4 linked regions of the Homo sapiens genome follow. The protein of the gene in region 4 purifies or fractionates together with the protein of the main gene of each other region. This does not show direct contact. Each region holds a gene or a part of one and is shown on either strand. Other genes may lie near its edges.

Region 1 (7,582 bases), on a different chromosome or scaffold from region 4:
ACAGATCTGCTCCCATGAGCCAATCACCTCCCACCAGGCCCTACCTCCAGCATTGGGAATCACATTTCAACATGAGATTTGGAGGGAACAAACATCCAAACCATATTATTCTGCCCCTGGCTCACCAAATCTCATGTCTTTCTTATATTTCAAAATATATTCATCCCTTCACAGTAGTCCCAAAGTCTTATTCCAGCATTAACTCAAAAGTCCCAAGTCCAAAATCTCATCTGGAGATGAGTTCCTTCTACCTATGAGCCTGTGAGATAAAAAACAAGTTATTTATTCCCAGTAACAATGGTGGTATAGGCATTGGATAAACATTTCCCTTCCAAAAGGGAGAAATTGGCCAAAAGAAAGGCGCAGTAGGCCCCACACAAGTCTAAAACCCAGCAGGGCAGTCATTAAATCTTAAAGCTCCAACATAATCCTTGACTTCATCTCCTGCATCCTGGTGCAAGGGGTGGGCTCCCAAGGCCTTGAGCAGCCCTGCCCCCATGGCTTTGCAGGGTACAGCCCACATGGCTGCTCTCATGGGTTGGAATTGAGTGTACCTGTAGTTTTTCCAGGCAAAGCGTGCAAGCCGATGGTGAGCCAACCATTCTGGGGTCTGGAGGGCATAATCACCTTCCCACAGCTCCACTAGGCAGTTCCCTGTTTGAGTCTTTGTGTGGGGTGAGGGCTGCAGTGCAACCCAGTTCTGAAATCTAGGTGGAATCTGCAATCTAGGTGGAATGCAAGCTCCTTCATGCTTGCATTCTGAGCATCTGCAGACTTAACACCACCTGGAAACCACCAATGTTTACAGTTTATGCTCCCCCAGAGTGGTGGCCCAAGCTATACCTGGACTCCTTTGAGCTGAGGCTGGAACTGGAGTGGCCGGGATGTGGGGAGCAATGTCCCAAGGCTTCTCAGGGCAGCAGGACCCTGGGCCTGCCCCCTTAAATCATTCTTCCCCCCAAGGCTTCTGGGCCTGTGATGGGAGGGGCAGCCTGGAAGATCTCTGAAATGCCTTTGAGGCCTTTTTCCCATTGTCTTGGATATTAGCAGTTGGCTCCCTTTTAGTCATGCTAACCTCCTTAATAAGTGATTGCTCCACAGTGTTATTAAATTCCTTCCCTATTCCCTGCCCTATTCCCTGGAAAATAGGCTTTCCAGTGGGAGTGGTTGCTCATGCCTGTAATTCCAGCACTTTGGAAGACCAAAGTGGGAGGATCACTTGAGCCCAGAAATTTGAGACTAGCCTGGGCAACCTCATCTCTACAAAACATAAAGTTAGCCAGGTGTGGTGGCATATGCCCATAGTCCCAGCTACTTGGGAGGCTAAGGTAGGAAGAACACATGAGTCCAGGAGGTTAAGGCTGCAGTGAGCCAAGATCCAGCCTGGGTAACAGAGCAAGACCCTGTCTTTAAAACAAAAAACAACAAAAAGAGGGGGCTTTCCTTCTCTACCACATGGCCAGGCTGTGAATTTTCCAAATGTTTATGCTCTGCCTCCCTTTAAAATGTAAGTTCCAACTTTAAGTCATTCCTTTGCTCTTGCATTTGATTGTAGCCTCTTAGACACAGCCAGGCCACATCTTAAATGCTTTGCTGCTTAGAAATTTATTCTGCCAGATGTCCTAAGTCATCACTTTTGTGTGTGTGTGTGTGTTTTTTGTTTTTTTTTTTTTTTTTTTTTTTTTTTTTGAGGCAGTCTCACTCTGTCAGCCAGGCTGGAGTGCAGTGGCACGATCTCGGTTCACTGCAACCTCCGCCTCCCGGGCTCAGGCAATTCTCCTGCCTCAGCCTCCTGAGTAGCTGGGATTACAGGCGTGTGCCACCATGCCCAGCTAATTTTTGTATTTTTAGTAAAGATGGGGTTTCGCTATGTTGGCCAGGCTGGTCTCGAACTCCAGACCTCAGGTAATCCGCCTGTCTCGGCCTCCCAAAGTGCTGGGATTACAGGTGTGAGCCACCGCACCCGACCAGTCATCACTCTAAGTTCAAACTTCCATAGATCTCTAGAACTTGGACACCACATAGCCAAGTTCTTTGCTAAGGCATAACACAGGTGACCTTTACTCCAGTTCTCAGTAACTTCTTCATTTCCCTCTGAGACCTCATCAGCCTGGACTTCTGTCCATATTTCTGTCAGCATTTTTATCACAATCATTAAACCAGTCTCGACTTAAGAAATTTCAAAGTTTCCCTCTTCTTCCTGTCTTCTTCTGAGCCCTTCAAATTCTTCCAACCGCTGCCCATTACCCAGTTCCAAAGCCACTTTCCCATTTTCAGGTATCTTTATAGCAACACCCAACTCCTTAGTACCAATTTTCTCTATTAGGCCATTCTTACATTACTGTGAAGGAATACCTGAGATGGTAATTTATAATGAAAAAAGGTTTACTTGGCTCATGGTTCTGCAGGCTGTGCAAGCATGGCACCAACATCTGTTTGGCTTATGATGCAGGCCTCAGGAAGCTTACAATCATGGCAGAAAGTGAAGTGCGAGCAGGCACATCATATGGCAAGAGTGGGAGAAAGAGAGTGAAGGGGGAGGACCCAGTCGTTTATTATTATTATTATTATTATTTTTGAGACAAAGTTTTGCTCTTGTCGCCCAGGCTGGAGTGCAATGGTGTGATCTCGGCTCACCGCAAACCTCCACCTCCCAGGTTCAAGCAATTCTCCTGCCTCAGCCTCCTGAGTAGCTGGGAATATAGGCATGCACCACCATGCCCAGCTGATTTTGTATTTTTAGTAGAGATGGGGTTTCTCCATGTTGGTCGGGCTGGTCTTGAACTCCCAACCTGAGGTGACCCGCCCACCTTGGCCTCCCAAAGTGCTGGGATTACAGGTGTGAGCCACCGCACCAGGCCCCCAGTCTTTTAAATAACTAGATCTCTAATGAACTAACTGAGCCAAGAACTCAGTCATCACCAAGGGGATGGTGCTAAACCATTCACAAGGGACCTGCTCCCATGATCCAGTTACCTCCCACCAAGCCCAGCCTCCAACACTGGGAATCACATTTCAGAATGAGAGTTAGAGGGAACAAATATCCAAACCATATCACTATGTAGTCTGCAAAACCTAAAATATTTATCCTCTGGCCTTTTATATAAAAAGTTTGCCAATCCCTGCCTTAGAACAATAAAGACTTGCTCTATTGGGCATTTTTGAGAAGTTAATTGTATTTCTTTAGTATGTTTCATAGATTCACAGAACTGGGAGGGTTCTTAGAAACCAATTAATCACTGTTCCCCTCCCCCTCTTTGTTTTTTTTAATAGTTTGAGAAAACAAAATTGAGAAAGGTGAAGCCACCAGCTCAAGATCATACTGCTACTTAAATGCAGAGCTAGAATTTGGATTAAGGAATATTTGTGCTAAAAAGAACCCAAAAGTATAGTTTATTTTGGATCAAATCTCTGTTAATAGCATTAGCTGACAATGTAAATTAAAATAAAAATAAAAGATTCTTAGCAGAGCCATTATCTATTTTCTGTTCCTCAGAAATTTCAGAAAACACTTAGCTCACAAAAACCCGAAACTCACACAATAAGCAGTAAACACAAATTGTTTACACTTTGCTAGAGAGCTCTTAACAGAATTTAGAGTAGTTTAAAAAAGTTAAAACACACACTAAATCATATGGGAGGGGTGTATGTTTCTTATATCCATATACATTTTTAAAGTGCCCTTAAACTAAATTGCTCATGTTAAGAGTCCTCTGGTAAACTCTGAATTAGCACTCATAGTTGAGCAGAAACTGGAGATGGAAGCAAATGAAATTGGAAACAGGTGTGCCTCCCACAGGATGGTAATAAAGAGGCATTGAGGCTTTGGATATACATGTGTTTATCTATTTTCTCTGTAATATATGGTGTCAAAGGCACCAGAAACACTCAGCAGATTTCACAACCAGGTTTTAATTCCTTTTCTTTGGTTTCAGGAATGTGGGAAGCAGGTGGGCTATGGATCAAGCCAAGTATAACCTAATTAATGAATATTTTCTGGTGGGAGTTACTGAAGAACTTGAAGATTTTATCATGTTATTGGAGGCAGCATTGCCCCGGTTTTTCAGGGGTGCTACTGAACTCTATCGCACAGGTATATAAAGGAAGGGTTTCTTTTTAAAGCTTTCTTTGGTTTGGTTTTTTGGTTTGCAACTTGTAAATATGTGATTTGAAGTTTCTTCAGTGAAACACAACAGATAGCTCCAGAAAGGCAGGTATCTTGTCGGTTTCTGCTCACTATTTTCAATTGAGTAACTGTGAATTAGGTGAAAATTAGAAGGCACTGTAGAAATAGTGGAATGATACAAAGTACAGAACCAGCCATAGAAATGTATGGTATTCAATAATGCCAGATATCAAACATTAGGCCTGTGTATAAGTCCTGCCTACTACCATTTTGAAGTAGAGGTGTGATAGGGGAACTGAAGTATGCCTAAGCCATGTTTTAGCAGCCTCAGCCGTATTATCATGTGTCTGAAAGTGATAAGCTAATTGTGTTTTTGTTTTGTTTCGTTTTTTGCTATTGCTTGATAAGATGCAGTCATAGGAACTCTTCTCCTTGAGGATGCATATGCCCTAGCTTCTAACACATAATTTTAGAGAATACAGATTATGAGAAAATAGAATACAGTTTGACAATAGGTATTTTATCAAAAATAAACTAGTCTCAGAGCACCAAGCACTTGAGAATATAGTGTGTGAGGTGACAGCCTACACTTTACTGTGTGCCAATCCTTACATTGACTATTTGACATTTCATTAAGTCTTTACTAGGTTAAGGATTAACATTCTAAAGGACTGAATCATGGCTCTAGTTTGATCAAGGCTCCGTTTTTACCTGAATTATATAAGACAATTATGTTACCTGTTCTTAATGTGTCATATTAACCACCTCTTCAAATAAAGAGGCATTGATCTTTTGTGTGTTCTCCAAGAATTATTTACCTTTCCTTTTTTTCCCCCTTTGTAAGTAGGAAAGAAATCTCATCTTAGGAAAACCACAGAGAAGAAACTCCCCACTAAACAAACCATTGCAAAACTACAGCAATCTGATATTTGGAAAATGGAGAATGAGTTCTATGAATTTGCACTAGAGCAGTTCCAATTCATCAGAGCCCATGCCGTTCGAGAAAAAGATGGAGACCTCTACATCCTCGCACAAAACTTTTTCTATGAAAAGATTTACCCTAAGTCGAACTGAGTATAAGGTGTGACTATTGGATTCTTGAACTAAAATTTGACCCTGTCTTCACCTTTGTTCTCAGCTCCACAGTCTGGATTGCTGACAGTAGGTGTATATGACAATTTGTATTGAGCCAAATTAGGAAACAGACAGTAACGTCAAGGAAGTAGATACTGGCTGGCATTGTCAGTGTTCTAAGTTTCAGGCATTTTTATTTTTCCTGGCTAAACGTTGGTGAAAGTTATAACCTCCTGCCTGGGAGAAAATATACATCACCTAAAATGAACTTATGGCAGGTCTAATCAAAAGGCTAAATACAATTTCAGAAAAGGTTCTGATACTCTTGTTTTTGATAAAGCATTTTTTCAACTAACCATGAATTAAGATGAGTCCATTTGCCTCTTCTGCCTTCACTGAGGGTTTGGGTTATACACCTCTACTGAATTGTGTTAATAACTGTTTGGCAGTGTGTACTTTGTTTTTGTGAGTCATGTCTCATGAAATTTATTGGAATGTTTAATCATATTTGCTAAGAAATGTTTCTGCTGTAGTTGGATTTGCCCATATTTATGTAGGTGGTTTTAATTTTTTAAATGGTGATTAGTGTTAAAAATCAATTTAAATCATGACTAATATGGTAAAAAGATAAAGCATCAAAGCAGTATTTCTCATTCCTGCCTCCTCAATATCTAATACTGGGAAGATACTTCAAAGAATATTGAGATTGTCTGAAGTTTTAGTTAAGATTTTCACACATTAATATCAAAAAAGTAAGTTTAGTATTTGTTTCTCCATGGGTTATTTGTAAAGCTGTAAACTGAGATATCGGTGACTCCGTATTATGACTCCATTAGTGAGCTGTGGTATGGGTAGGATTTTCCTACTTCTTCTGTACTTTTACCTGTAGACTATTTTTACTAAGGTGCTTTATAATGTGTTTTAAAGCATTGCATTTACAAAACAAGGAAAATGCTGTAAATATTGCATATTTTATGTATTTGGACCAAAAGGTTACAAGTAATTAGACAAAAGTGGTTTTGCACCAATTTTATGTCAAGTAAAACCATCAGACCTACTGTTCTTGTATTTCTCATTTAACTTTACTGTTAAGACATCACTGAAATGAACTTCAGTAAGCTTTCAATTTTGATACACAGTTCATTATTCATAACTTGAGGCAGTAATTACAGTGGAATGAGTACTGGACAAGGAGTCAAAAAACTTGATTTCAGGTCCTAGCTCTAGCACTTACAGCTGTGTGATCTTGGGCAAGTCACTTAACCTCTCTTTGCCTCAATTTCCTCATCTTGAAATGAGGATAATAATACCTGCTGTACCTACCTCACAGGGCTGTTGTGAGGATTAAATGAGATGGCATGTGAAAGCACTTTGAAAATTGTAAAGCGCTATGTAAATGTAAGGTATTATAGAAACATCTTTAACATATAGTTTCATACCATTCATTTTTTAACAAAGAAAGGGAAAAGTCTGCTTGTAAGCTGGTTGAAAAAGTTAATCTTGATATAAATTTGTGTTTGATAAATATCCTCTCAGTGTTTTATCTTCCATGTTTCAACAACTATTGAAATATGAAATGCCTGTGAACTCTTAAAGCTTCATGAGCAGCTGCTTGAGTTCAGGAAGTTCACTGTTAGAAATAGGCTTTGTTAGCTGACTAGGGTCAGGGAAACTTTTCTCTTCAAATTTGAAAGCTGTTTCTGTTTTCATTTTACATTATTATTCAGAAATGGTAGCTATTCTATACCTATGGTTTAAGTAAATATTTCTGAATAAGGCTTCACCATACTGTAAGCATTTTAGGTAGATTGCCTTAAAGGTTATGGGAGGGCATGAGGGAACACTTCTTATGAGAAAACATTTATAAACAAAAGAAACATTTATAAACTAAAGAAAAACTAAAAGAATGACAGAACAATCATCTTAGCACCCTTTCCTCACAATAATATAAAAATATTAAAAGAACATAGGCAGGCTTTTTTTAAATTTGGCTTTTTTCTTTCCTTTTTTCAAATTGACTTTTATAGGTATTTCCTGAAAGTGTATACAAATTATTTCCTCGCCCAAAATAAAGCACCACTTCAAGGTGTGGTTTGACATTACATGCTAATGAACAAACCCAGTATGCAAGTTATTCTTGCACCACATGCTCAAATCTTCTTGAGGTGCATTAACTCTTTTAGGTAACTAGAGCAGTACTTGGTGAACTAGATCAGGAGGTCAGTAAACTTTCTGTGGAAGGGCCAGAGAGTAAATATTTTAGGCTTTGCAGCCCATACGGTCTCTGTCACAGCTAGTCAACCCTGCCATTTTACCACAAAAGCAGCAATAGACATTATGTAAACAAATGAGCACAGTTATGTTCCAATAAAACTTTATTTA
Region 2 (7,582 bases), on a different chromosome or scaffold from region 4:
TAAGCTAAAACAATCTTTTCATATGGAATCTTTTCAAGAGACCTATAATAGAACATGATTCTTTCATGTTCTGATACTTGTTGAATTAAGGAGTATTTATTGAGAATCTTCTTTGTGCAAGGCTCTGCTCTAGGTTCTAGGTATCAAGCAATTTTAGTTTTATTTCTTTTATGTTTTGGTCATCACCAAAGTCTCTTCTCTTGTGGAGTTTCTCTCCTTGTATAAAATGCTAGTGGAGGTTTGTTGTTTTGTGTTTAAAAAGGATGAACTGCATTTGAAACAGTTTCAGAGAGAAGGCATATTAAGAGATAATGTTTCTCAAAGTAGATATGGGGACACTAGTTGCGTTCAGATAAATTGGGGAAACACTGCATTCTATTTTTTTTGAGACAGAGTTTTGCTTTTGTCACCCAGGCTGGAGTACAGTGGCATGATCTTGGCTTGCTGCATTCGCCTCCTAGGTTCAAGTGATTCTCCTGCCTCAGCCTCCCAAGTAGCTGGGATTACAGGCGTGTGCCACCATGCCTGGCTTATTTTTGTATTTTTAGTAGATACGGGGTTTTACCATGTTGGTCAGGCTGGCGTTGAACTGCTGACCTCCCATGATCCACCCACCTTGGCCTCCCAAAGTGCTGGGATTACAGGCATGAGCCACCACGCCCGGCTGGAAACACTGCATTCTATATCTCAACCCTTTACACCTGGATATTCATAAAACATTCACTGTATTAAAGGAACAGAGTTCTACTATTTTTTAAAAATGGACTTTTATTTATTTATTTATTTATTTATTTATTTATTTATTTATTTTGAGACAAAGTCTTGCTCTGCAGGCTGGAGTGCAGTGGCGCGATCTTGGCTCACTGCAACCTCTGCCTTCCGGGTTTAAGAGATTCTCCTGCCTTAGCCTCCCAAGTAGCTGGGACTACGGGAATGCACCACCACTCCCGCCTAGTTTTTTTTTTTTTTTTTTTTTTTTTTTTTGTATTTTTAGTAGAGATGGGGTTTCACCGTGTTGGCCAGGCTGATCTTGAACTCCTGACCTCAAGCAATCTGCCCGCCTCCACTTCCCATAGTGCTGGGATTACAGGCATAAGCAGCCGCGCCCTGCCTAATATTACAGTGACTTTGATTAGGCCTGTGGAGGAATTCCCTGACAGTTAAACCAGAAACTGTGAAGCTTTTTTTTTTTTTTTTTTTTTTTGAAAAGACAGGATCTCACTCTGTCACCCAGGCTGGAGTGCAGTGGCACAACTGTGGCTCACTGCAACCTTGATGTCCTGGGCTCAAGCAGTCTTCCTGCCTCAGCCTCCTGAGTAGCCAAGTCATGGAGACTACAGGTGTGAGCCACTGAGCCACCACACCTGGCTAATTTTTTTTTTTTTTTTTTTTTTTGTAGTAGAGACAAGGTCTCGCTGTGTTGCCCAGGCTGGGCTCAAGCAGTCCTCCTGCCTTGGCCTCCCAAAGTGCTGGGATCACAGGCGTGAGCCATTGCGTCTGACCCGGGAAGCTCTTTTTATGGAAAAGCTTATCAGTCGCCTTTTTCTGGGGAGGGACTCCTGTAAAAACTCGCATGTAATTGAGGCCTGTCAAGGGCCACTGGGGTTCTAAAATCTATTGCTTTAATGGAAAATTATAAAAATTTTTTTCCTGGTTGCAGGTAAATTTTTCTTTTGAATATAATAAACTATTCTTAAGATTATGGTTTGTGGCCGGGCGTGGTGTCTCACGCCTGTAATCCCAGCACTTTGGGAGGCCGAGGTGGGCAGATCACGAGGTCAGGAGATCGAGACCATCCTGGCCAATATGGTGAAACCCCGTCTCAACTAAAAATACAAAAATTAGCTGGGCGTGGTGGCATTTGCCTGTAATCCCAGCTACTCGGGAGGCTGAGGCAGGAGAATCGCTTGAACCAGGGAGTTGGAGGTTGCAGTGAGCCAAGATCGTGCCACTGCACTCCAGCCTGACGACAGAGGGAAACTCCATCTCAAAAAAAAAAAAAAAATTATGGCTTGTGAGCAGGTGGTGTTTATGGTTAAGACACCTTGCTTTGACCTAGACTGATAAGAATTTGACTTCAACCTAGAGACAACCTAAGTTTGAGAAAAGAGATATTAGATTATAATAGGATAAAGTCAGCATTTTCTTAAGATCATAATATCGTTAACAGTAACATGATACTTTCTAGATTTAATTCGCTGACTAACTTCACTCTTTTGCAGGTATGATTTTTAATGAACGCGATCAAGAGTTGAGAGACTTGGGCTATCAGAAACATGCTTTTAATATGCTTATCAGTGACCGCTTGGGCTACCACAGAGATGTGCCAGACACAAGGAATGCAGCGTATGTGCCTTATCGGATTTGCAAATACATTTTAACAACACGATGCTTTTAGTGTCAGTGTAAGAGGTCACGAGGACGGGGTTCATATTTCCCAATGCAGCGTCTTTATTCAGCATACTAGGAAACTTGAGACAGATTTCCACTTGTATTATATGTGAAGCCACATGGTCTGAGATGTACCAACAGAGTCCTGGAGCTTGCTGTGTCTCCTTTAACATTTCAGATCACCTGGGGAAGCAGAGTAGGGTGCTAATTAAATAACCTGAGTATAAGTTTGTTCTAAATGTTTATTGATTGGATTCATGGCAAATAGGAATTAACATCAGTGAAGAATTTTACTCTCATTTCACTTTTCTCTTTCATTGTTTTTTTTCCATCAAAGGCTTTTCGTGCATGTGGTCAGTCATTCCACAGACAGACATTTGTTGAGCACCTTCTGTTTGCTACACGCCGTCTTGAGCCCTGGAAGAAACAAACAGATGTAGTAGTTCCTCAGTTCTCAGGGCTAGAGTCTAGCAGGGGAGGCAAATAAGTCAACAAGTCCTTACATGAGTAAGGGCTGTGACAGGGTTTGGGGAAATGGGGGCATAGTACTGGAGTGGTCCCTGCAGAGAGGTGACAAGGCTGGAGGGAGGCAGGGCTCAGATGCTGGAGGGCTGTGTGTGCCCTGGGAAAGAATTCAGGGTTCTCAATGTGTTCTCTAAGTTCATGGCTTTTTTTTGGGGGGGGGGGGATGGAGTCTTTCTCTGTTGCCCAGGCTGGAGTGTGGTGGCATGATGTCGGCTCACTATAACCTCCACCTCCCAAGTTCAAGTGATTCTCCTGCCTCGGCCTCCTGAGTAGCTAGGACTACAGGCGTGCACCACCACGCCTGGTTAATTTTTATAGTTTTAGTAGAGATAGGGTTTCACCATGTTGGCCAGGCTGGTCTCAAACTCCTGACCTCGTGATCTGCCCACCTTGGCCTCCCAAAGTGCAGGGATTACAGGCGTGAGCCACTGCGCCTGGCCAGTTCATGGCTTTTTGATGTTGCTTAAAGCTCCTAACCCTTTTTTTCCCAAATAGTTGCTTGGAATGATTTGATACATGGAAGCTCTTCTGTTATCTTGGTATATCATAATTTATTCAAATCTTTTTTATTATTGGGCAAAAAAATAAAATTTCAAATATAAAGTCTTATATTTGTTTCCTTTTGAAACCTCATTGAGGAGAAGCTGGACATCAGCTCATGAGTGCTGCATGAAACACTTGCAGTGATTTTGGTAAAAAGAACTCACATTTTTATGTACCCTCTCTTCCAAAAAAGAAAAAAAACCCTGAAGTTTAAAAAGTCTTTATTCGGCTGGACATGGTGGCTCACACCTGTAATCCCAGCACTTTGGGAGGGCGCGGTGGGTGGATCACGAGGTCAGGAGATCGAGACCATCCTGGCCAATGTGGTGAAACTCTGTCTCTACTAAAAATACAAAAATTACCTGGGCGTGGTGGCGCAGGCCTGTAATCCCAGCTACTCAGGAGGTTGAGGCAGGAGAATCGCTTGAACCAGGGAGTCGGAGGTTGCAGTGAGCCGAGATCGCGCCACAGCACTCCAGCCTAGTGACAGAGCAAGACACCGTCTCAAAAAAAGAAAAAATTTATCCAAAAGTAAACAAGATAGCAGGTATAGGAGGGAGACATTATTAGCAAAATGTAAAACTCTTGAAGAAGAAACCGTATTGTTTTTGTAAATGCTTTTAAAAAAAATTGTTGTTACCATAATGTTAGAAAGAGGCTGAACAGGCTGGACGTGGTGGTTCACGCCTGTAGTCCCAGCACTTTGGGAGGCTGGGGTGGGCAGATCACCTGAGGTCAGGAGTTCGAGACCAGCTTGACCAACATGGAGAAACCCTGTCTCTACTAAAAATGCAGAATTAGCCGGATGTGGTGTCGCATGCCTGTAATCCCAGCTCCTCGGGAGGCTGAGGCAGGAGAATCGCTTGAACCTGGGAGGCGGAGGTCACGATGAGCCGAGATAGCGCCACTGCACTCCAGCCTGGGCAACAAGAGCGAGACTCCGTCTCAAAAAAAAAAAAAAAGGCAGGGGGTGGGGGAAGAGGGTGAACAAGGGGACAGTAAATCTGTAGGTGAATAATAATCTAAACCATTCGAGCCTTTTAAAATGTCAGAATTTCCTCATCTTTATCTTTACAGATGTAAAGAAAAGTTCTACCCACCTGACCTGCCAGCTGCTAGTGTTGTTATCTGTTTCTATAATGAAGCGTTTTCTGCCTTGCTTCGGACAGTGCACAGTGTCATAGACCGCACGCCAGCACACCTGCTTCATGAGATCATCCTTGTGGATGATGATAGTGACTTTGGTAAGGAATGCTGCACCTGGTAACATTGGATCCAGGCTGTCAGTCACTACAGCACTGACAAACACTAACACAGCTGAACTTTCAAGTACGTGGTAGGTGGGGATCCTACACGTGCAGTCACAGCTGGGCTGACCACAAATAAGTCTGAAGAAATCCATTATCTTTGTAACCTGCTTATAAACTATGCTACCCAAATTTGGGCCGTGAAATTTTTTCCGTGGCTTACTTTAAAAAACACACCTCTTTTTATTTGAAATAACTGTAGGTTCACAGGAAGTTACAAAGACGGCCTATGTACCTTTATCCAGTTGCTCCATCATAAAATTCCCCTGTCAGAACCAGGAATCCACATTGGTACAGTGTGTGTGGTCCAGGGTCATTCTGTCACACAGGTGGACTCCCACAACCCTCACTGCAATGATACAGAACTGTTTCCTCACCCGGAGGGCCCTTGTGCTGCCTCTTTCTAGTCACACCTCCTGCTTTCCTCTACTCTTCCCCAGTCCCTGAAACCACGACTCTATGATTTTGTTTCCATCTCTGATTTTGTTATTTCAAGAATGTCATATAAATGGAATCACACGGTATGTGACCTTTTGAGATGGGCTTTTTTCATTTGGCATGATGCCTTGGCTTATGCTTCTCTATTAAGTCTCTTACACTGATCGTCCCCAGATAAAAGTGGATTGCATTCTGATAGCTCCTCAATGATCTCTGAATGCCAGTATTTTATGATTCACTACATATTCTATATTCTGTACGCCTTTCTTAATTCAACATAGACTCTTGCTAAGAATGGCTTTGTGTACCCAAACAGGATAGAAGGCTTTTTATTACACTGCTCATTCAGCTCTCAGTGACCTTGCAAGAAAGGCTGGAAGCCCATTTTATAGAGGGAGAAATATAAAAAGTAATTTGCTCAGACCCCATAGCTGTTAAGTAGTAGAGTGGAAATGAGACCTCTGGTCTGCATAGCTCCAAGCCTTCTGCTCTTTTCATGACAGCAGGCTGCAGGAACACAGTGGTACAGGTGTATGCCAGTGACTTTTTCATGCACTCGAGCGTTTATTAAGTACCACTTGTATCAACATCAGAGTTGGTATACCAGTATACTTAAATATAGAAGGTAAAGAAATGGAGAGAGTCATGGGAGCAAAATTCTCAAACCTTGGCCAAAAACAAACAAACAAAAAACCTAATAAATAAATCTGAGTCTGGACCACGTAGAAGATTGGTTACATACTGATTTCTAGAATTTATGGTTGGTTTTTGTTTTTTTTTAAGTCAACTTGTATTTTGGTTTTCACTTTGTGGCTATTTTACCTAAAAGGAAAAATTCATAATTTGAGGTGGTTTGTATATTAACTATGGAAAGAATTACTGCTTATTATCTTACACGATCTTTCAAGTTATTCTGAAATATACAGGTGAATGACATAGAATTCCTTAAAAAATATTTAGCAACCTTGGAAGAAAGATGCTAAATTAATAAAAGGACATATTCAATGCTGTTCTTGTTATTCTTGGTAGGGGCAATAGAAGTTGTTTCTTAACTATTTTGAAATGGACTAAGACTTAATAAATTCCTTTGTAATAAAAGGCATTTATATCTCATTTTCTTTGTTATCAATGTGATTTATATATGGTCAGCTGAACATTTATGCACTCAAAATACTCATTTCAAACATTCTTTGTGCAAAGCATTGTGCTCGATGCTATGGAGATACAAATAAGTCTGTAACTAAAGTAAGTATTCCTCTTTGCTAGTATTCCAGCTCTTACCCTTCATTTCTTTTTCTTCCTACAGGATAAGCTACAATACTCTTTTAAAGTAAAATATTCTGTAGTATTTGCTTGATAGTTTGTTGTAAATTTTAGCAAGTACTAGATACAACTTTAGAATAGCTGTAAAGTGTCTTTATATATGTCTCATACAGTTTGAATAATTGTGGGACTTTATTTTCAGATGATTTGAAAGGAGAACTAGATGAATATGTCCAAAAATACCTCCCTGGAAAAATTAAAGTCATAAGAAATACAAAGCGTGAGGGGTTGATTCGAGGGAGAATGATTGGCGCGGCCCACGCGACAGGTATCACTTCTCGTTAGCTTTGCTCTACAGGTGTTGGATGACAAGGGCTCGAGCCTCAGCGCCTGTCCTGATTCTGCAAAGTCTATGAAGAGTAGTGTTTCAAACGGACATTGCCAGCAGGAGAGATGAGGCTTGTTCTGTTTGGGAAAGACCTGTTCATAACGCCAAGCCTGCCATCCCAAAGCACATAGTGCAGGGGGCTGAACTCTCAAATCCTCAGTGTCTATTTTCATAGCAACCCTTCTTTGATACTTACTGCCCCTCAAATATATTTTATATCTTATTCACTTATATAAGCAGAAAAGCCCAGACCAAAATGTAACTGAATTTTTATGTTTTTAAATACAAAATTTAAAATGTATGAACCCAAACTGTCGATTGGAACTATGCTTTTAACTCTTAGTGCGGAGTGCATCCCTCTGGAGCCACACATCATGACTTTAATTGGTTAATGGACGTAAGATTGACTTACAAAACTATAAATGGCATTTTCTTTAAAATTCCCTCTTAATCCTTCTGATTCCATCAAGGAGCAAGTCTCCGTTGTTACTAGTATATTTCCATCATACACTGCTCTCCCCCTTTAAAAAGAAATAACCGATCTCAAATTCAGTCTTCTGCAGAAAATATATCTGGTTAGTCTTCAGTTACGTTATATTGATTCTGTTGTATTTCGTTTTATGGTTACCTATGTGTAATTGGTCTCCCTGAGTTTCATTTATGACTGTAATTAAAACATTTTTAAATAAATGTAATTAAAACTAATGAATCTGTTTAAAAATGTTAG
Region 3 (7,577 bases), on a different chromosome or scaffold from region 4:
AAATAGAATCCAGCAGAAATTCGGGAGTTGAAAAATGCAATTGACATACTGAAGAATTCATCAGAGTCTCTCAGTAGTAGAGTTGACCAAGCAGAAGAAGGAATAAGTGAACTTGGAGACGGTTACATGAAAATATACAGTCAGAGAGGACAAAAGAGAATAAAAAAGAATGAAGCACACCTACAAGACCCAGAAAATAGCCTCAAAAGTGCACACCTAAGAGGTATTGGCCTTAAAGAAAAGCTAGAGAGAGAGACAGGGGTAGAAAGTTTATCCAAAGGGTCCGGGCATGGTGGCTCAAGCCTGTATTCCCAGCACTTTGGGAGGCTGAGGCGGGTGGATCAGGTCAGGAGTTCAAGACCAGCCTGGCAAACATGGCAAAACCCTGTCTCAACTAAAAATACAAAAATTAGCCAGGCGTGGTGGCGGGTGCCTGTAGTCCCAGTTACTCAGGAGGCTGAGGCAGGAGAATCACTTGAACCTGGGAGGTGGAGGTTGCAGTGAGCCGAGATTGCACCATTGCACTCCAGCCTGGGTGACAGAGCGAGACTTTGTCTCAAAAAAAAAAAAAAAAAAAAAGAGAGAAAGTTTATCCAAAGGGATAATAACAGAGAACTTTCCAAAACTAGGGAAACATACTATTATCCAAGTACAAGAAGATTATATAACATCAAGCAGATTTAACCCAAAGAAGATTACCTCAAGGCACTTAAAATCAACTCTATGTTTAAGAGACATAGCTTAAAGTAATAAAAGCCATCTATGACAAACTCATAGCCAACATTATACTGAACAGGGAAAAGTTGAAAGCATTCCCCCCGAGAACTGGAATGAAACAAGGATGCCCACTTTCACCACTTCTGTTCAACATAGTACTGGAAGTCCTAGTCAGAGCAATCAGACAAGAGAAAGAAATAAAGGGCATCCAAACTGGTAAAGAGGAAGTCAAACTGTTGCTTTTGCTGATGATATGATCATATACCTAGAAAACCCTAAAGACCCATCCAAAAAGCTCCTGGAACTGGTAAATGAATTCAGTAAAGTTTCAGGATACAAAATTAATGTCCACAAATCAGTAGCTCTGCTATACACCAACAGCGACCAAGCTGAGAATCAAATCAAGAAATCAACCTCTTTTACAATACCTATAAAAATTAAATAAATAAATAAAATAAGGTACTTAAGAATACACCTAACCAAGGAGGTGAAGGACCTCTACAAGGAAAACTACGAAACACTGCTGAAAGAAATTATAGATGACACAAACAAATGGAAACACATCCCATGCTCATGGATAGAATCAATATTGTGAAAATGATCATACTGCCAAAAGCAATCTACAAACTCAATGCAATTCCCATCAAAATACTACCATCGTTTTTCACAGAACTAGGAAAAACAATCCTAAAATTCATAGGGAACCAAAGAAGAGCCCATATAGCCAAAGCAAGACTAAGCACAAACAAGAAATCTAGAGGCATCACATTACCCAACTTCAAACTATATACAAAGCCATAGTCATCAAAACAGCGTAGTGCTGGTATAAAAATAGGCACATAGACCAACAGAACAGAATAGAAACCCAGAAATAAAGCCAAATACTTGTAGCCAACTGATCTTCAGCAAAGCAAACAAAAACATAAAGTGGGGAAAGGACACCCTTTTCAACAAATGATGCTGGGATAATTGGTGACCCACATGTAGAAGAATTAAACTGGATCCTCATCTCTCACCTTATACAAAAATCAACTCAAGATGCATCGAAGACTTAAATCTAAGACCTGAAACCATAAAAATTGTACAAGATAACACCGGAAAAAACCTAGACATTGGCTTAGGCAAAGATTTCATGACCAAGAACCCAAAAGCAAATGCAACAGAAACAAAGATAGACAGGACTTAATTAAACTAAAAAGCTTCTGCACAGCAAAAGAAAAAATCAGCAGAGTTAACAGACAACCCACAGACTGGGAGAAAATCTTCACAATCTATACATCTGACAAAGGACTAATATCCAGAATCTACAAAGAACTCAAACAAATCAGCAAGAAAAAAAAAAACAACCCCATCAAAAAGTGGGCTTAGGACATGAATAGACAACTCTCAAAAGAAGATATGCAAATGGCCAACAAACATATGGAAAAAATGCTCAACACAGCTAATTATCAGGAAAATGTAAATCAAAACTACACTGCAAATCTACCTTACTCCTGCAAGAATGGCCATAATCAAAACATCAAAAAATAATAGACGTTGGCATGGATGTGGTGAAAAGAGAACACTTTTACACTGTTAGTGGAAATGTAAACTAGTACAACCATTATGGAAAACAGTGTGGATATTCCTTAAAGAACTAAAAGTAGATCTACCATTTGATCCAGCAATCTGACTACTAGGAAGAGGAATAACCACAGAAAAATAAGTCATTATACAAAAAAGATCCTTGCACATGCATATTTATAGGAGCATAATTCGTAATTGCAAAAATATAGAACCAGCCTAAATGCCCATCAATCAACAAGAGGATAAAGAAAATGGTGTATATACACATACATACACACACACACACACACACACACACAATGGAATAGTACTCAGCCATAAAAAGGAGCAAATACTGGTATTCACAGCAATCTGGATGGAACTGGAGACTATTATTCTAAGTGATGTAACTCAGGAATGGAAAACCAAATGTTGTATGTTCTCACTGATAAGTGGAAGCTAAGCTATGAGGACACAAAGGCATAAGAATGACACATAGGACTTCAGGGACTCGGGAAAGGGTGGGAGGGGGTGAGGGATTAAAGACATCGGGTACAGGATACACTGCTTGGGTTATGGGTGCACCAAAATCTCAGAAACCACCACTAAAGAACTTATGCATGTAACCAAACACCACCTGCTTCCTAAAAACCTATTGAAATAAAAAATACATTTTTATTTTTAAAAAATGTCCATACTACCCATACTACCCAAAACAATCTACAGATTGAATCCAATCCCCATCAAAATACCAATGACATTCTTCACAGAAGCAGAATAAACAATTCTAAAATTTATGTGGAACCACAAAAGACCGAGAATAATAGCAAAAGCTAACCTGAGCAAAAAGAACAAAACTGGAGGAATCACATTACATGACTTCAAATTCTACTACAGAGCTATAGTAACCAAAACAGCATGGTACTGGTATAAAAACAGACACACAGACAAATGGAACAGAATACAGTACCCAGAAATAAATCCACACACTTAGGGCATGGCTACACGGAGGAAGGGGTTTCTGAGCACAATACTCTGTGTGTGTTAACTTTGTAGTTTTGAAGTTAACAAGACCCTGGGCTCGCTATGCAGTCCGTATGTGATGTTGAACCCTTTACACACAGCACTAGACGGTTTTGAACCTATCAAAACACTGCTTCACTTAAATTTCACCAACTCCTTAAAATCCTAGTAAGTCTATGTTTTCCTTTGTTCCTATGTTCTCCTTTTCTCCCACTTTGTGGGTTGTCTGTTTACTCTGCTGATTATTTTTTTTGCTGTGCAGAAGCTTTTTAGTTTAATTAAGTTCAGTCTATTTATCTTTGTTTCTGTTGCATTTGCTTTTGGGTTCTTCATCGCGAAGTCTTTGCCTAAGCCAATGTCTAGAAGGTATTTTTCCGGTGTTATCTTGAGCAATTTTTATGACTTCGGGTCTTAGATTTAAGTCTTTGATGCATCTTGAGTTGATTTTTGTATAAGGTGAGAGATGAGGATCCAGTTTAATTCTTCTACATGTGGGTCACCAATTATCCCAGCACCATTTGTTGAAAAGGGTGTCCTTTCCCCACTTTATGTTTTTGTTTGCTTTGCTGAAGATCAGTTGGCTAATCAGATACCTCATAGCTCCTTTGTTGTATAATTTTGTGCATTGTAGATCAGGGTCAAAATGATAAAGGTGATTTTCTGGGACTACAGACTTGTCAATAACAGGTGGTCCTAGGCTGATAGAGGTAAACAAATAAAAGCTTTAAAAGAATATTCTCTGTTAAAATTTGCTTTCATAAATTTCATGTTTAAAATCATTTGTGAATAAATGTTAAAATAAAAAGGTGAGCCACGATTTTGGTAAGGCAATTTCTGAGCAAATCACACACAATTTTTTTTCATTCCCATTGATCTATTACATAGACGAATATTTGGTTGTGAAAAAGTGAGAGAAAGAACTCGGCTATTTTATTATAGTAGAGCAACACCGAAGGGAGACGACTTCGCTGTAGCTCAGAGTCTTTTTCCATTCTTCACCCACGCGCGGGGCAGTCGCGCGGCGCGGTCGCGCGGCGGGTAGGAACTACCATCCCAGCATCCTCTGCGGCGCGGGGAAGGAAGCCCGGGAATGAGAGAAAGAGGCTCCGGGGAGATAGCGGACCAGTGAGGGCTGCCCCTCTTTTGAAGCGGTTTTCGTCTCTTTCCGCCAGTGGCCTCCCAGCTCACGCAGGGGCGGGTCCCGGTAGCGCGAGGCGGTGCAGGGCGGGAAGGGGAGTGGTGGCGGCTGCGGCAGTAGGGACAGCAGGAGCAGTGGTGCTGTCAGCGCGGCCGTCGGAGACATGGGAGACCCGGGGTCGGAAGTGAGTAGTCGAGTGAGGGTCCTGGCGTTCTCAGAGGCGAACCGCGAAGGGTTTGTGTTTTCTGCGGTCTGAGGCCTGGTGCTCCGTCGCAGCCTCGGGGCGATACCTCTTCAGTGTCTTGGGCCGAGCCCAGCTCTGGGGCCTGGTGCGTGTCTGAGCGAGGAACCCGCAGCAACAATGGCCGCCCGGCCCCCCGCACGGGCCCTGGCGTTCGTTGTGGCCGCGGCTGGGCCAGTGGGAGCGACGTTTTAAGGCAGGATTGCCCTTCGGTGTTGAGCTTGCGTTCCTCCTGGAGTAGATAAGGGGAATTGTGAGAGGCTGGTAACTAACGCGTTTTCAGCGTTGGGTCCCTGCAGCTCCGCACACTCTGTGGCAAGAGCCAGAGCTCGAGTTCCGTTCCTAGTCGGGTTTCCGTGAAATTGTGCTCAGTTCGTTTTCCTCAAGAGCTCTCTGTCTTTAATTGTTCCTTTCGGAAACGCTCTCTTCCTACACGAATGTGGCTGAACAGATAAGCATGTTTTGGCTTGTTTTTATAGATAATAGAATCTGTCCCTCCAGCTGGCCCTGAGGCATCTGAGTCAACAACGGATGAAAATGAAGACGACATTCAGTTTGTCAGTGTAAGTAGCAATGATGATTGGGGTTTTCCCAGAGTAAAAGACTATGGTGGGCCATTATGTAATGTTACCTCACCTGGTCATTTAATGTTCATGAGTGTCTAATACATACTAGACACTGGAGCATGGCGCAGGATTGGGAAATTTACCAAAAGAGCTATCTGAGCCACCCCCGTAGCCATCACAAAGAGCACGTCCTAAAGAACGTGCTGTACACTTAATCTCGCCCCCTGCCTTTCATTTAAACTTAAGATAAAAACGCTGGTGTCTAAAACGCTGTTTTGAAATGGAGCAAGAGTAACTTCTAAAGGCGACACGGAGGAAGGAGCTGCTAATGATGAGCAAGGACGTAGAAAACAGGAAGGGTTGTGAGAGCCCAGAATCTTAGCGTTATGGTGCTTCTAACATGAAGGCAAATAGCTTGAAGATTTCTCTAACCTCTGAGATCATCATGTTACGGCATAGTACAGTTGATGCTCATAATGAAGAATCCTACATCACTGGGAACATGCTCTATTTTTCTGAGTTTGTTCCCTTTGAGACAGTAGTTTTCAAGCCTTAGTAAGTATAAACAGGCAGATTCCTGGGCCCCACTGCAGACCTACCGAATCAGAATTTCCAGGCGGGGGCCTAGGAATCTTCATTTTCAGACAAGTGCAGGGACATAAGGATTTCTGAGCACACTTTGGACAGAATGGGTTTCTAAAGCAGAAGGGAGTGTTTTATGATATATTTTGGGGTGATTTTCATCCATAATTGTTGGAGTTTTAGAAAGGCTTTGCGTAAAGTGGTATCTCAGCTCGCCAGGCAGAAAACAGTTCTGTCCCCAACTCGTCTTTTGGAATGCCGTAGTTAGTTGCAGTTTGGTATTCAGGCTGTAGAATTTTTCTTTAATGGAGTGTCTGTCTAATGTTTCTGTGTTTTTTAGTTTTTGTAGGTTTAGGGCGACTTTGTAAGTCACTTGTTTTTTAAATTAAAATTTCCTCCCTAAACATTGTTTTGTTAACATCGTTGTTTGTTTTTCGTGTTTTGTGTATAAGTTCTTTACCCTGTCACTTTCTGGACATATTTCCCAATTAATAGTGTGTGTATATTTTGTTCCTGACATTTGGAACCTTTCTAAATATTGATGATACCAAGGGAGATTGTATGCTGACTCTGCCTTCACTGTTGTTATGGAGTAAGCAACGTAACTTGAAATCAAAGAGCAATGGTTTCTGTTTTTGTAACGAGAAACATTTGGGAAGAGGAGTTCATGGGTCTTTAGGAAAAATAATTTTGGTTTCCTCTTAACTGGTATAAAAACAGGAATGATTGGGACAGATGATCTTGATGAGTTTTTTGTGCATCTGTATGTAGAAGTGACACACGTCTGATTGATGATCCATGTGCCATTGAGAAAGTATGTAGAAGTGACATACGTCTGATTCATGATCCATGTGCCGTTGAGAAACACAGATGGGATGTACAAAATTAAGTTTGGAAAAGTAAATAGGTATAGATTTGTGTAATATCCTGAGGAATAAATCATTATATTTTAAATTGTGAGTTAATATATAGGCTGTGTTTAGCTGAGGTTTAAAACTCTTACTTTAAATTTTATTTTAAATATAAAGATCCTTCTACATCTTTTCATACAATATTTTGTATATCCAGCGTGATAGAACCCTTTATATTTAACCCTGTTCAAAATAGAAGATCAAAGGTTTGACAGCTCTTATATGGAGAAGTGAATTACATGCTGTCAGTGTAATTGCAGTACCAGAAAGAATGTAGTAAAACATCCCTGTTGCATTTCAGTGGTGCCACATAAAAGACAATGATAACTTAATTCCACTTTGAAATACACTCAGAGACAACTTTCCTTTGTAACCCCATCCTATACTGGGCTCTACCAGGATATGCTTATTTCTCTGTGTTTTTTATAGTACCATCCAGTAAAGATGCAATGCTGCTGGGTATAGTTCTCTGCTTGTGGGTTCTTCAGATTAAAAGAAAAAAAAGTTTGTTACTTCTTGATATATTCTGGTTTGGATTCCTTAGTCTTTTCATATAAATGTTGATTATCTAGCCTTCATTCTGCGTTGTGGCACAGAATCCTCTTTGTGTTCTGTCATGTACCTAGCCTCCAAAATAAACAATATGCTGAAAGAAAGGAATGATAAAAGATTTGGGGATACAAAAAGAGTCCTTATCTTAATGTAAATTTTATTGAAATATAGTACCTATACAGGGAAGGTTACTTCCTCCTTGCCATCACTATTTTTGTACCACATTACCATTTGTCTAGATTGATTATCTTGTTTGTATTCTTCCCACATGCTCTCTTATGTGGTTAACCTTCTTGAAACAG
Region 4 (7,763 bases):
AGTTAACAATACTGTATTGTTCAATTAAAATGTTGTTAAAAGGGTGGGTCTCATGTTAAATGTTTTATTACAATAAAAAATAATTTTTAGGAAGAAAGTTGTTAACTGGGTTTTTGTTTGTTTGTTTGTTGTTTTGCAGATATCCTTTAACAGACCTAAAGCTGTGTGATTTCTAGTAATCCACCTTTCAGAGCGTGACTTCCACCCGTCTAAATCCCTGGGAGTGAACTCATGGAGTTCTGGGGGGAAAAAAAATCCTGGGAGGTCGGGTTGGCCACAAAGCCCAAGATGTTCCCCAATTTACTAATTAGGTTAGAATTCCACACAACCAGCACCTCACCACCACCAAGAATTCTAATGGAAACTTTCTTCAGTGAAAACTAACTTCATTTATTTCAAGGCTGGTGCTAATTTTGGTTGTTGACTGCTTTGGCCTCCGATTATGGGAGGTATCCTGGGTGGGAACTGTCAGGGGAAGCTACTTGGAAGGCAGGACTGAGCCGGACCAAATTGCAAGATTCAAACCAGTGAGGAGGCCCAACAGCGGATTCTCCACAGACCCAGCAGAAGCTCTCGGGGGCTGGAAAAGGGCGCCACCTGGTGGCATCTGAGCAGAAGTCAGTGACACGTTTTCACCCACATGTCAGTACAGCTCCCGAAGCAGGTCCAGCGGAAAAGCTCCGGTATGAAGCTTTTCCCTTTACAGTGTGCTGTGAGGGTGTGTAACCACAGTTAATGGAAAGGGACCTCACTGGACTCAATCCAGTGACATCACACATGCCGTGTCTCCCACCCACAGAGAGAACTCCCAGGTCTTGAGTATGTGATGCCTGGAGCCTCATCTACCTTCTGAAGGCATCGTTCAGGCACGCTTTACATATGAGCAGTGTTTGGATTATTAATTGGAAAGGTCAGAACACCGTTTCAGCGGGTATATGAAAGTGATAGCAGCGGTGTCTGGAACATAAAGGAGAGTGTGTTTGTCCACTCTTCCTAGGGACACAGGGACGGGGACACTCCCCACTCTCCCCTGGGACACGGGAATGCTCTCCACTCTCCCCTGGGACACAGGGACGGGAACACTCTTCCCTGGGACACATGGGGACGCTCCCCACTCTCCCCCGGGACACAGGGGGACACTGTCCACTCTCCCCTGGGACACACGGGGACACTGTCCATTCTCTCCCGGGACACACGGGGACGCTCTCCACTCTTCCCTGGGACACACGGGGATACTCTCCCCTGGGACATATGGGCTGTCCACTCTCCCCCGGGACACACGGGGACGCTCTCTAGTCTTCCCTGGGACACACGAGGACTCTCTCCACTCTTCCCTGGGACACATGGGGACACTCTCCAGTCTCCCCTGGGACACATGGGGACGCTCTCCACTCTCCCCTGGGAGTTCCAGAGTGACCGTCATCGTGAAAAATGACAGGGATTGATGTAGTTTCCTGGCTTTTGACATTAACCCACAAACCCAACTACCACTCTGGGTTTTTCCTAGAGCGTAAGCCTTAGCTGACGCCATCCACACATTATGGTGCTGTGGATTTTCCTGTAATGAAAAGGAAAAGATTCAGACAGCAGGAAATAAGGGGCCAGGGGGAGGCTAAGGCTGTCATGATGGCAGAGAAGTCTCAACCCATGATCTTGGAAAAGCTGTCCACATTTAGGATCCCGTCTGCTTCTGGGGAAAACTTCCCTGGTTAGCTTCACCTTAAGGTCTCCGAAAGGTGTACGGTTCCAAGAATCTGGAGGGGTCTTTTTGAGTTTGGGGTTAGCCGATTTTTCTAAAATGTGCACAAGTTCTGGGTCCATAGTTCTTACACACATAATTAGCAAACGTCCCAGAAGGCGGCACGCAGACTCCTTGGATTCAGACAAACCCAAGCCAAAAGGGACCTACTCAAGGCCTCTAACTGGATACAATAGAGTTAAGTTTTGGATCCAATTCAATCCTGGACCCATTCCGGTCTAAGAATTGCTCAAGGCCGGGCGCCGTGGCTCATGCCTGTAATCCCAGCACTTTGGGAGGCCAAGGCAGGTGGATTGCCTGAGCTCAGGAGTTTGAGACCAGCCCAGGCAACACAGTGAAACCCCGTCTCCACTAAAATACAAAAAAATTAGCCGGGCGCGGTGGCATGTGCCTGTAATCCCAGCTACTTGGGAGGCTGAGACAGGATAATTGCTTGAATCTGGGAGGCGGAGGTTGCAGTGAGCTGAGATCACGCCACCGCACTCCAGCCTGGGCAACAGAGTGAGACTCCATCTCAAAAAAAAAAAGAATTGCTCAAAGTAGAGGGCTCAAAACACATGGTCATAGAGCACAAATCCAGCAGAGAGAACTCACCTATGACTCTAGATGCTTTGAGAGATCAGCAGGCACACAGGCCCTACTGAGCATTCAGTGCTCCTAGGGGGTGGCTGGAGGTCTACTTCAGATCCCACTTCTGACACCAAACTGTTAAAACAAAAACTTTGGACAAATTAAATTTAAGAGTTTGTGTGTGTGTGTGTGTGTGTGTGTGTGTGTGTGTGTGTGTGTGACAGAGTCTCCCTCTGTCATGCAGGCTGGAGTGCAGTGGTGCAATCTCAGTTCACTGCAACCTCCACCTCCCAGATTCCAGTGATTCTCCTGCCTCAGCCTCCCGAGTAGCTGAGATTACAGATGCCACAACACCTGGCTAACTTTTGTGTTTTTAGTGGAGACGAGGTTTCGCCATGTTGGCCAGGCTGGTCTCGAACCCCTGATCTCAAGTGATCCACCCATGTTGGCCTCCCAAAGTGCTGGGATTACAGGTATGAGCCACTGTGCCCAGCCAACAGAGTTTAATTGAGCAAAACACAACTCATGAATTGGGCAGCACTCAGAACCAATGGGGGAGGTTCGAGAGCTCCACTCTGTAATGTGGGCAGGAAGTTTTTATAGATAGAACACAGAAGTGAGATACAAAAAAAAAAAAATCACAATTAGCTTGATTTTGTTACTGCTTGAAATGTTTGCCTTATATGGCATGATCAGATCAGTTAGCAGCCTGTGACTGGCTGAGACCCAGCTATTTGTTCCAAAATATACTCATAGGTTAAGCTTTTAGCTTGTTTCTGTGGTACATTAGGTTGCAGTTTGTTGTTACCTAGAAACTCAAGGCACAGAGGCAGCCTGTTAATTGAGTTAATTTAACAGTTCAAACAAATACTTATGCACCAGTGTTTATAACAGCACTATTCACAGAGTTAGTTTGAAAGCAATCTAAATTCCTTCTTTGGATAGCCTAGACATTTCTCCTGGCCATAAGAAGGGGTGATGCCCTGACACATGCTACAATGTGGATGAACCTTGAAAACATGCTCAGTGAATGAAGCCAGACAGAAAAGGCATTAACCCAGAAACAAATATTGCATTTCCTTGATATGAAATATCCAGAACAGGCAAGTCCATTCACTGAGACAGAAAAGCGACCAGTGGTTGCCAGGGCATGGGAGGAGTGTGGAACGGGTCGTGACTGCTTAATGGATGGGAGTTTTATTTTGGGGTGGGGAAAGTGTTTGGGGACGAAACAGAGGCGGTGGTGGTTGCACAATGTTGTGAATGTCACTGAATTGTTTACTTTAAAATAGTTAATTACATGCTATGCTGATTTTATCATAATAAACTATTTTAAAATTATTTTGTGAAAAACTGTGATGCTTGGGATTTGCTTCAAAATAATGTGGGTGGGGTGGAGGTTCGAAAAGTTACCAAAAAAAAAAAAAAAGAAAGAAAGAAAGAAAGAAAACTCTGGCTTGCAAAGAAGAAAACGGATCGGCCGTGGATCCCTCTCCAGCTCGAGGGCTGGAGCTGCGGCGGAGGCAGGAGCTGGAAGCGAGGCGTCTGCTGGCAAAGGCGGGAGTGCAGGTTGCGCTCGAAGCCCCGGCAGCCGCGGCAGGAACCGGCCTGGACGGGGTGGGGGGCGCCGCGGAGGCCGGCGGGACTTCCCATGTCTTTCTCCTCGAGCTCGGAAAAAGTTCCCACCCGGGGAATCCCGACCCTCCAACTTCGAGACCGCCGGTTCCGCGCTCGGCCCCCACCTGGACCAAGAGCTGGGGCTGGGCTGCCGCGCCCCCGGCTCTGTCCCCGCGAGGCCCCGCTCCCAGCCCCACCTGGGACACCCGGGACTCCCGGGACACCTGCGGGGCGGGGCGGGGCCGGGGCGAGGCGGGGCGGGCTCGAGGCCGCACCCCGGAGGCGGAGCCGCGAGCTACCCGCCCGCCGCGCGCCCCCCGCTCTCGGTGCGCAGCGGGGCCGACCCTCAGCCCTGCAGCGCCTTCCTGGAGGTGGGGGCCGCCCGCGCCATGGCCGCCGCCCAGCCCAAGTACCCCGCCGGGGCGACCGCCCGGCGCCTGGCCCGGGGCTGCTGGTCCGCCCTCTGGGACTACGAGACGCCCAAGGTGATCGTGGTGAGGAACCGGCGCCTGGGGGTCCTGTACCGCGCCGTGCAGCTGCTCATCCTGCTCTACTTCGTGTGGTGCGCGGGGCGCGGGGTGCGGGGCGCGGGGTGCGGGGCGCAGGGGAGGGGCTGGGATTGGGGGCGCTGGGCTGGAGGCGCGGGGCTGGGGCTGGGGCTGGGACCGGGGGCGCGGGGCAGGGGCTGGGGCTGGGACCGGGGGCGCGGGGCAGGGGCTGGGATTGGGGGCGCGGGGCAGGGGCTGGGACTGGGGGCGTGGGGCAGGGGCTGGGACTCGGGGTGCTGGGCTGGAGGCGCGGGGCTGGGGCTGGGACCAGGGGCGCGGGGCAGGGGCTGGGGCTGGGACCGGGGGCGCGGGGCAGGGGCTGGGGCTGGGACCGAGGGCGCGGGGCAGGCCCCAAGAGCCCCGCAGAGCGGACCCGGGTCGCGGGAGGGCCCCTGCCGTGCCTGCGGGCGGGACTCAGCCTTCCCAGGGTCGCCTCCGGAGCCGGCGCCGCCCCTGCCCGCAGGTACGTATTCATCGTGCAGAAAAGCTACCAGGAGAGCGAGACGGGCCCCGAGAGCTCCATCATCACCAAGGTCAAGGGGATCACCACGTCCGAGCACAAAGTGTGGGACGTGGAGGAGTACGTGAAGCCCCCCGAGGTGCGGGCCGCCCCCTGCCCCCCGCCCCGCCGTGCACCCTACCCTAGTGGGCGGAGGGGGCAGCGGCTGCCGCCTGGCCGACCGCCCCCTCTTTCTGAGCCCAGGGGGGCAGCGTGTTCAGCATCATCACCAGGGTCGAGGCCACCCACTCCCAGACCCAGGGAACCTGCCCCGAGGTGAGGGGATCCCGCGGCGCTGGGGGACCCCGCCTCAGCTAGGCGGGCCAGCTGTCCCTTGCGGGGTCCCTGACTGGGCCGCCTCCACCCTAGAGCATAAGGGTCCACAACGCCACCTGCCTCTCCGACGCCGACTGCGTGGCTGGGGAGCTGGACATGCTGGGAAACGGTCGGTGTGCGCCAGCTGGGGCTGGGCGGGTGGGGCAGGGCTGCGTCCCCGCTAATGCCTCAGTGACCTCTGCCTCCCAGGCCTGAGGACTGGGCGCTGTGTGCCCTATTACCAGGGGCCCTCCAAGACCTGCGAGGTGTTCGGCTGGTGCCCGGTGGAAGATGGGGCCTCTGTCAGGTGCACCTGCGCCCCGGCCTGGGGCCCAGCCTCCCCTCTGATCCTTTTCCCCTGACCAGAGGCCAAACGGGCGGGGCAGGAGTGACAAGATCTGGGGAGGGGTGGGGGCCAATGCCAGGCGGGGGCTTTGCGGGAAGAGGGGACTAAACAACCCTTCTGTGCCTCCTCAGCCAATTTCTGGGTACGATGGCCCCAAATTTCACCATCCTCATCAAGAACAGCATCCACTACCCCAAATTCCACTTCTCCAAGTAAGAGCCGCGGGGTGTGGTGACGGCCCAGCCTGAGGGCTGCCTTCTGGGAATGGGGTATTTGGGGTGCAGGTCTCGCCTCCTGCCGCCTCCTCAGGGGCAACATCGCCGACCGCACAGACGGGTACCTGAAGCGCTGCACGTTCCACGAGGCCTCCGACCTCTACTGCCCCATCTTCAAGCTGGGCTTTATCGTGGAGAAGGCTGGGGAGAGCTTCACAGAGCTCGCACACAAGGCAGGGCAAGCGCAGGCAGGGTGGGGCCAGGGTGGGCTCCCACCTGCACAGAGAGGGCCTGGGGTACAGGGGACCAGTCCCTCCTCCCTCCTGACCAGCTGGCCCCGCTCAGGCAGAGGAAAAGAAATGCGATCAGCGCAACCCATCCGGTGTGGCGCTTGCTGAATTATTGACACTGGCCATGGGGCTGGCTGCTGGCACCCCTTGTGCCTCAGACACTGGACGCCCACCAGTACCCCTGAGCTGCCCCATGGGCCCCTCAGTGCACACCTCACATGCAGCCTGGGACTGACCCGGGCTCTCGAGGGGCCTCTCGTGTGCCCTTGTGACCCCCTTCCCTGGCCTGGGACTGACCCGGGCTCTCGAGGGGCCTCTCGTGTGCCCTCCTGACCCCCTTCTCTGGCTCCTTCTTGGCAGGGTGGTGTCATCGGGGTCATTATCAACTGGGACTGTGACCTGGACCTGCCTGCATCGGAGTGCAACCCCAAGTACTCCTTCCGGAGGCTTGACCCCAAGCACGTGCCTGCCTCGTCAGGCTACAACTTCAGGTGCTGTACTTGGGACACCGCTGTCCACACTGGCATAGCTGTGGTGGGGTCCCGAGAGGCCCAATGCCTGTGGGGCAGCCCTGGAGTGCAGAGGACGAGTGGGCACTGGCGTTCCCATTGCAGGTTTGCCAAATACTACAAGATCAATGGCACCACCACCCGCACGCTCATCAAGGCCTACGGGATCCGCATTGACGTCATTGTGCATGGACAGGTGCCTGCACCTGCTGGGGGTGGGTGGCCAGCCCTGCTAGCCTGGGTCTGAGCTCCTCACGCCCCACCCCTCCCTTAAGCCCCATCAGACGCCGTCAGACATTCTGACCACGACCCCCATTCTCCCCAGGCCGGGAAGTTCAGCCTGATTCCCACCATTATTAATCTGGCCACAGCTCTGACTTCCGTCGGGGTGGTAAGGAACCCTCTCTGGGGTCCCAGCGGGTGCGGGGGGTCCACCAGGCCCTTACACACCGGTCTCTGCTGGCCCCAGGGCTCCTTCCTGTGCGACTGGATCTTGCTAACATTCATGAACAAAAACAAGGTCTACAGCCATAAGAAATTTGACAAGGTGTGTACGCCGAGCCACCCCTCAGGTAGCTGGCCTGTGACCCTTGCCCGTGTATTGGGCCAGGCCCCTCCCGAACCCGGCCACCGCTCCGAGGACCAGCACCCCAGCCCTCCATCAGGCCAGGAGGGCCAACAAGGGGCAGAGTGTGGCCCAGCCTTCCCGCCCCTGCGGCCTTGCCCCATCTCTGCCCCTTCTGAGCAGATGGTGGACACTCCTGCCTCCGAGCCTGCCCAAGCCTCCACACCCACAGACCCCAAAGGTTTGGCTCAACTCTGAGCTCCTTTCCATCTCACTGGACTGCAGACCCGGCCTGGTGGGGCCAGAGAGTCCCCAGCTAGGGACCTGCACGTGGACGTGGGCACCTCAGTAGCGGAGCATCTCCACGAAACGGGGCACCACAGGATCCCTGTGCAAGGGCTGGGGGCACGCTCTGGCCCCAGGCTTGTGCCCCACCCTGGCATACAGCCCCTGACACCTCCTCCCCAGCTGGTCCCTACAGGGCTGCTCACTTCCCATCACCTCTCACAGCCACCTGGAACCCAAGCCAG

Evidence for each region.
Region 1: the proteins of P2RX2 (region 4) and HS2ST1 purify together in Homo sapiens (affinity purification with mass spectrometry; 2 studies listed by BioGRID and IntAct, with this or other methods). This does not show direct contact.
Region 2: the proteins of P2RX2 (region 4) and GALNT11 purify together in Homo sapiens (affinity purification with mass spectrometry; 2 studies listed by BioGRID and IntAct, with this or other methods). This does not show direct contact.
Region 3: the proteins of P2RX2 (region 4) and KIAA1586 purify together in Homo sapiens (affinity purification with mass spectrometry; 2 studies listed by BioGRID and IntAct, with this or other methods). This does not show direct contact.

Annotation. Positions count from the first base shown.
Region 1 is NC_000001.11:87,099,497-87,107,078, forward strand, and holds part of HS2ST1 (heparan sulfate 2-O-sulfotransferase 1), read left to right. Parts: intron 1-3,935; coding exon 3,936-4,093; intron 4,094-4,973; coding exon 4,974-5,200; 3' UTR 5,201-7,582. UniProt on the Homo sapiens protein: Catalyzes the transfer of a sulfo group from 3'-phospho-5'-adenylyl sulfate (PAPS) to the 2-OH position of iduronic acid (IdoA) or glucuronic acid (GlcA) within the heparan sulfate (HS) chain and participates in HS biosynthesis.
Region 2 is NC_000007.14:152,098,576-152,106,157, forward strand, and holds part of GALNT11 (polypeptide N-acetylgalactosaminyltransferase 11), read left to right. Parts: intron 1-2,222; coding exon 2,223-2,346; intron 2,347-2,619; exon of another isoform or gene 2,620-2,808; intron 2,809-4,536; coding exon 4,537-4,703; coding exon of another isoform or gene 4,704-4,726; exon of another isoform or gene 4,727-6,317; intron 6,318-6,669; coding exon 6,670-6,795; coding exon of another isoform or gene 6,796-6,812; exon of another isoform or gene 6,813-7,560; intron 7,561-7,582. UniProt on the Homo sapiens protein: Polypeptide N-acetylgalactosaminyltransferase that catalyzes the initiation of protein O-linked glycosylation and is involved in left/right asymmetry by mediating O-glycosylation of NOTCH1.
Region 3 is NC_000006.12:57,042,170-57,049,746, forward strand, and holds the start of KIAA1586 (E3 SUMO-protein ligase KIAA1586), read left to right. Parts: upstream 1-4,523; 5' UTR 4,524-4,586; coding exon 4,587-4,607; exon of another isoform or gene 4,608-4,752; intron 4,753-5,143; coding exon 5,144-5,227; intron 5,228-7,577.
Region 4 is NC_000012.12:132,614,482-132,622,244, forward strand, and holds the start of P2RX2 (P2X purinoceptor 2), read left to right. Parts: upstream 1-4,294; 5' UTR 4,295-4,335; coding exon 4,336-4,508; intron 4,509-4,957; coding exon 4,958-5,093; intron 5,094-5,197; coding exon 5,198-5,269; intron 5,270-5,362; coding exon 5,363-5,438; intron 5,439-5,518; coding exon 5,519-5,615; intron 5,616-5,785; coding exon 5,786-5,866; intron 5,867-5,963; coding exon 5,964-6,102; coding exon of another isoform or gene 6,103-6,107; intron 6,108-6,519; coding exon 6,520-6,650; coding exon of another isoform or gene 6,651-6,773; coding exon 6,774-6,864; coding exon of another isoform or gene 6,865-6,883; intron 6,884-6,993; coding exon 6,994-7,059; coding exon of another isoform or gene 7,060-7,137; coding exon 7,138-7,491; 3' UTR 7,492-7,518; coding exon of another isoform or gene 7,519-7,763. UniProt on the Homo sapiens protein: ATP-gated nonselective transmembrane cation channel permeable to potassium, sodium and calcium.